2 linked regions of the Homo sapiens genome follow. The protein of the gene in region 1 interacts with the protein of each later gene in a pairwise test. Each region holds a gene or a part of one and is shown in the gene's direction. Other genes may lie near its edges. The genes, in order: PELI1 and PDAP1.

Region 1 (4,025 bases):
AGGCCCTTTGAGACTTAAAATTCTTTTCTCAGAAACAAAGCTTTAAAAGATCATAAATTTAGCATAGTAACTACAGTATTAGAACTTCAAATCACATAGATTTTAATGGTATCAATGACAAACAGCTCTTAACTACCAAAAACTTTTCCAGATTAAATTCTTCTAGCAGGAAATTTGAGAGTCATTTGAAGAATAGTTTAATATTTAGCTTAGGGTTTTAAACCGCCAGTCTTAGCCTATGGGTTCCTCAGTTAATCATTAGCAACAGTAATTGTCTCTGTGTCTGGTACTTGGTGTCTTAAAATGCAGATAATTTTTCTTCTCAACCCTCTAGAAGTGAAGCTGGACAAGGTTTCATGCTGTTGCTGCTTAGAAAAGAGCTTTGAACTACAGGAACGCAATGTGGGACTAAAGAGCAAGATCCAGAAGTGGGATGAGTCATGCAACTCAGAGGACAGTAGTGAAGGGGCAGTGAGGAATCGACAGAGGGTCTGGGGGCAATACAAAGCCTAAAATAGCTAAAATAATTATTAGCTAAGGGGCTGTACTTTGGACTTACAGCAAGGCTAGCAACATTACCAAGGGCTTTCTCCAATACAAAGTATTTTATTTTTTATAAAGGGTCAATGTAGTTTCTATATATGGCAGTCATTGAGTAAACTCTCTTCTCAGCTTTAAAACATTCTTCCTTGCCAGCCACAATTACAGGCCATTTTATAATCACTTCCTCCTCCAGCCTCAAAACTGTCCCTGTTCCCTGCTTCCTTTCCCCCTAGATTGACCAACTACATATGGTAGATCATCAAACCCAAGATTTGTCAGGGGGCGGGGGCAGGGGAGGTGGACGGTGAATGAGGAAAGATTATTATTAAGCTACTGCTCATGCCTCAATGAAGCAGTAAAGAATGACATAACCACATGACAAACATACTTAAATTCAAATTCTGGCTTTGCCAGTGTCACTTCAGAATATAATTCTTCTGAGTCTGTTTCCTAATGTACAAAAATGGGGACAGTGATTTCAATCTAGTAGAATTTTTGCAAGGGTAGATTTAGTGAGGTGATGTGTATGGGATAGCATTCAATAGTGCCTGGTACATAGTAAACACCCAAATATTTTTATTTTGTTTTTAACTTGTTTCCATTGGTTTAGTACTTGCTTACCTTTAGGATGTATATGTGTGTGTGTGTGTATGTGTACATGTTATGGAGAAATGGTCATAAGATCTGAACAACAAAAGTATGTTTACTACTTAGCAAACATGTCTGTTGGACAGGTTCTGCTAACATAATGAGAGTGCATTTGTACATTCAGGTAGCTAAGACTTAACAAATCTAAAAATTCCTTACTTCAAAAGTTCAGCTATTTAAAGTGTTTGGTTCACAATTAAAGGAGATTGTGTTTTAAACAATACATACTGTACTTTTTAAAGGTTGTATTAGCACATGCAAACAGTTCACCTTAAAAAAACAGAATGAGTCATAAGGAGTCAGACATGCCATTAATCAGCTCTTAATTATCTTCCATAAAAGAGGGAAGGAAAAAAATAGAGATAACACGAATCTGTGTATAATCCAAAAGGTTCTCTGTGACTTGGAATGAAGCCAGAAAAAGAATCTCATTTTGTTTCACACACTGGCACCTGGTATGGAGATCAACAGTTGCTCAAAGGAATTTTAAATAATTATAATGTGTTAATAGATAATTAATTGGGAATTGATTCTGCAAGGCAAAGTCAAACATTTGTTTTATAATTGTGCAGTTCTTGCAAGAGATCACCTATACTTTTTTTCCCCCATCAGGTATAATGGGTCTCTCCCAAATGGCGATAGAGGAAGGAGGAAAAGTAGGTTTGCTTTGTTTAAAAGACCTAAGGCAAATGGGGTGAAGCCCAGCACTGTGCATATTGCTTGTACTCCTCAGGCTGCAAAGGTAAAAAAAAAAAAAAAAAGCTACATAAATTAACTTGGAGAATTTGAAAGACTTTTATGTGTTGTTTGTATTCTCTAGCATTCCCCTTACATTTCTATTTCAGAAATTGCCTTTTGTTTGGATTGGAGAAGAGACTTTGGAGACATGGTATTTGAAGAGCTGCCATATGGAAGGGGAATTGGACTTTTAAAAAAAAAATGACAAACCAGGATCAGTGGGTGGAAATTAGAAGGAAACACTCTGTTTCCTTATTAAAAGAGGTGGGATGGGGGACAGGGCTTTATCTAGTACTTAGAATTATGCAGCTGTCTGCCCTGAGAAGTGGGAAGTTCCCACTCTGTTACTAGAGGGGTCTCCCTGGACTGGATGAAGAATGTGATGTATAATATGTGTATTCAGGTATTAGAAGCACATTTGGATGAGGTAATTTTTAAACTAAGGGTCTTTACTTAAGATTCTTTGTATTGGTTGTATTCATTTTTGGTTTATAACTTCATATATTTGAGCATAGTACCTTGCACAAAGTAGACCTCAATAATTATTAAGTTGAATCAAAGCTATGAAGGCAATATCCAACTGCATCTACAATATAACTTCTCAACCCCCTAGCCTATTTCATGCTTCTAGCCCCCTTGTATTCTTCTAACAAAATTTCCAGAAGCTGGACCACCATTTCAGGATACTTGGGCTTTTCCTAGAGTGACAGACAAGGAGGGGGAATTTCACATCTTTATATTTTCTGTGAATTCATCTGCCTCCAATTTTATAACACTGACTTTGTGTTACAAAGAATTTAATATTGTAATGAGCAAATAAGAAAAATTAGAAAGAGTTCTTTGACTCCTGGAAGTACCTGTATCTTTAGCTAAGTAGCCCTAGGATGTACATTAATATTATACCATCTGAAGCATATCTTTGTAAATTAAATAAACAAGAGACAGAAAAATTGGCATATGATGTGGTTTTAGGTTGCAGCTTCAGTGTCTGAAGGTAATTGGCTTTTCAGCTTTGTTTTATATCCAGTTTGATTTGTGAAAGAATCCTTAGGCCTTGACTAGGACTCCTCTGTTACTATTTGGGAGCCAGTTGGTGCAGAAAAGGGACAGTTTCTTTTTGCTCCTTTGGCGAGAAGGAATATACTAAGCAGGTGGTGGAAGTAAACCTCAGATTGATTGAATCTGAGGAGCTTCTTACAGTAGCTCCCCCCGGAGTGCTCTTGACATTTTGGGTATGCCACTTTTTCATTGTTCAGTACTTTCCCACATACTACAGGACATTTATAGGTCCTTCACCCACAAAATGCCATTTGAGCCTGCAAATCCTCGTAACAGCCAAAAAATGCACAGCATATTTTCAGATGCCCCTTAGACTGCTAATACTACCTCTGGTTGAAAACCACTATCAGGGAAAATATTTCTAATCCCTGCCTCTGTAATACCATATTCTGTACTTTTCTTCCTATTTTACTCTGCCATGCCCTCATGTTTTCATTGTTATCTCTTTTTCATCTTTCATCTTTACTAGGCAATAAGAATCTTAGGGATCACAGATTGACTCTTGGCTGGGTGCGGTAGCTCACACCTATAATCCCAGCACTTGAGAGGCCAAGGTGGGCGGATCACTTGAGCTCGGGAGTTCGAGACCAGCCTGGGCAACATGGTGAAACTCCATCTCCACCAAAAATACAAAAAATTAGCCAAGCGTGGTGGCATGCCCCGAAGTCCCAGCTACTTGGCAGGCTGAAGTGGGAGGATCACTTGAGCCCGGGAGGCAGAGGCTGCAGTGAGCTGAGATCATGCCACTGTACTGCAGCCTGAGTGACAGAGTGAGACCCTGTCTCAGTTTAAAAAAAAAAAAAAAAAAAAGATTGACTCCTCCTCTTTAAATTTTGGAGGAATGTATTTGTGAGGTCATGATGAAAATTAAGCATTTAGTCTGGCAGTCATCTGGGATGAGTAGTTAAAACCCTGCGTTCTAGGCCAGTGAGACTCAAACGTAACTTGACATAGTTTTTATTCTCAGTCTTAGAGTAGGTTTAATAACTAACAAACAAAGATTACAATTTCAAAGCACATAAAAACCAATGTTTTAA
Region 2 (2,212 bases), on another chromosome or scaffold:
CATGTAGCTGGGAGCCATGCTGCCTTAGCCATGTGTGCCACCACACCTGGCTAATTTTTAAATTTTCTATTTTGTACAGAGTCTTGCTATATTGCCCAGGCAGGTCTCAAACTTACAGCCTCAAGTGATCCTCTTGTCTTGGCCTCCCAGAGTGCTGGGATTACAGGCCTGAGCCACCATGCCCAGCCCTTCCTTCCTTGTAGGATGTGGTCCCCACTGCTTTCATCCTCCTGGTCATCTTCTCTGGAACACTCTTGGCCTGGTCCCCCTTCTCTCCATGGCCGCCAGAGCCTGATCATGAAGCCCTCAGGCATCTTCCCCTCCCTGCTGTAGCTGGACATTGTCCCCTTTCCCTCTGAGGCTTTCTGGACATCGCAGATGTTTTCTCCCTGGGCCTCTCCCTCCTGCTCACTTGCTTGGTGAACGTCCACCAAGCAGGGGGTTCATGGAGGCAGGGACTCACAGCCAGGGCACCCCTTCCACCTCGGCCCTAGGCCGAATCCTTGGCCTTTATTCTGACTCCCGTCCAGTTTGGCAAACAGTGGTAGGAAAGATGTCCCCATGACACCATTTTATCCACACAGAGAAGAGATTGAGAAGCAGAAGGCAAAAGAGCGTTACATGAAAATGCACTTGGCCGGGAAGACAGAGCAAGCCAAGGCTGACCTGGCCCGGCTGGCCATCATCCGGAAACAGCGGGAGGAGGCTGCCCGGAAGAAGGAAGAGGAAAGGAAAGGTAAGGGCTGGGCTGCGCACGCAGGGACAGGCCCCAACTCTGGTCCTGGGCCAGCCACAAAGCACTGAACTCGTGTCCCTGTCCGCGAGGTGACAATGAGGTGAGGAGTGACTGCTGCCTAGGAGGTCGTTCAGGAGAGGGCCACCCTCCCTGTGCCTGCCACTCCCTCGGGGACCAGGAGGGTCCAGCGACATCATGGGGTCGGATGTAGGTTGAAGTCTCAGCAGAGCACCGTCCACAGTAGGTGGACAGTCACTCCTGCTCCCAACAGCGGGAGGTCACAGGAAACCATGCCCCTAGTACAGACCTTGCCTGAGGCTCACAGGTCCCACTAAGGTCTCTGGTGCCTTGGGAACCCAGGAGAGATGCCTGAGGTCACCGCTGTCCATCTGCAGGGCTTGGGAGGGTGAGCTGGATACACAGCAGTGCAGACTGGCTTGACATCCAGCCCAGGCATCCCTTTTCCTGTGCTCTCCCCTCCAGGCAGGCCAGAGATGGTGGAGGTTCCTCTAGGCCAGAGTGGCTATGGGAGTTGGTCCAGTTTATAGGAGCATTCAACTTGCAACATTCCATCTCCCGGGGGTCTGTGAGAGCCCCTACATGTCCATCTGTCCTGCCTCCTCACCAGACCATGAGGAAGCAGGCCTGGAAAGGGGAAACCAATTGCTCAGGGACATTGTCACCCGCACCAGAAATCCAGTGATCCCAACTTCCCATTCAACCCTGCTTCACAAACCCCAAGCAGGAAAGGACTTCACATGTAACTGTTGGAATGTTTAAATTTTAGACTTCAGAACCCGTGGAGGGAGGTTAGAATTACAGGGTTCTGCTGGGAGGTGGGGTGAGAAGTTTCCGTTTGCCCACAAGAGTGTGTGTTGGTGGGGCTTTGTGGAAGGAACAGCTTTCTATAAGGTGGTCTGGCCACTGAAGCGTGTCGGGAATGTCGGGGGGCCCGGGGTTACAGCTGCAGCAGAAATCCTCTCCCACGCCTCGGCTCTTCTCTGTTGCACAGAATGTTTTCTGCAGCCTTTCAGACCTAAAGTTCTAGGGTTCTGGCACGTGTGTTGGGAGGGGGTGGGGGGTTGCTTTGTTTTAACCCCTGCCCTTCTCCCACCCCTCAGCAAAAGACGATGCCACATTGTCAGGAAAACGAATGCAGTCACTCTCCCTGAATAAGTAACTGCGACCCGTGGGAGGAGATGCCGGGGACCTGGGCCGCGCTGCCAGGACCTCTGCTGTGTCTCGCCCACCCTGTGCCCTGGCGCCGCTGCAACAGCCCCTCATGGCCAGGAGCCCCCCATGGCCTGGGGCCTCCTCTTCATCTTGGCACAGAAATTGTTTGGGGGATGGGGGGGGGGACTGGGGGAGGGGTAGCTGCTATCTTTGAGACAGAAAGATGCAGGACAGCATTTCATATGTAACCATTTGAATGTTTTTGCTGTTTTTAGAATTCAGAGCCCTTGCTGGGGGGTGCCT

Evidence for each region.
Region 2: the proteins of PELI1 (region 1) and PDAP1 interact in binary tests that used the Homo sapiens proteins (3 or more experiments, as listed by UniProt).

What each region holds. Positions count from the first base shown.
Region 1 is NC_000002.12:64,102,609-64,106,633, reverse strand, and holds part of PELI1 (E3 ubiquitin-protein ligase pellino homolog 1), read left to right. Parts: intron 1-1,803; coding exon 1,804-1,933; intron 1,934-2,036; exon of another isoform or gene 2,037-2,077; coding exon of another isoform or gene 2,078-2,080; intron 2,081-4,025. UniProt on the Homo sapiens protein: E3 ubiquitin ligase catalyzing the covalent attachment of ubiquitin moieties onto substrate proteins. Involved in the TLR and IL-1 signaling pathways via interaction with the complex containing IRAK kinases and TRAF6.
Region 2 is NC_000007.14:99,396,386-99,398,597, reverse strand, and holds part of PDAP1 (28 kDa heat- and acid-stable phosphoprotein), read left to right. Parts: intron 1-584; coding exon 585-736; intron 737-1,857; coding exon 1,858-1,916; 3' UTR 1,917-2,212. UniProt on the Homo sapiens protein: Enhances PDGFA-stimulated cell growth in fibroblasts, but inhibits the mitogenic effect of PDGFB.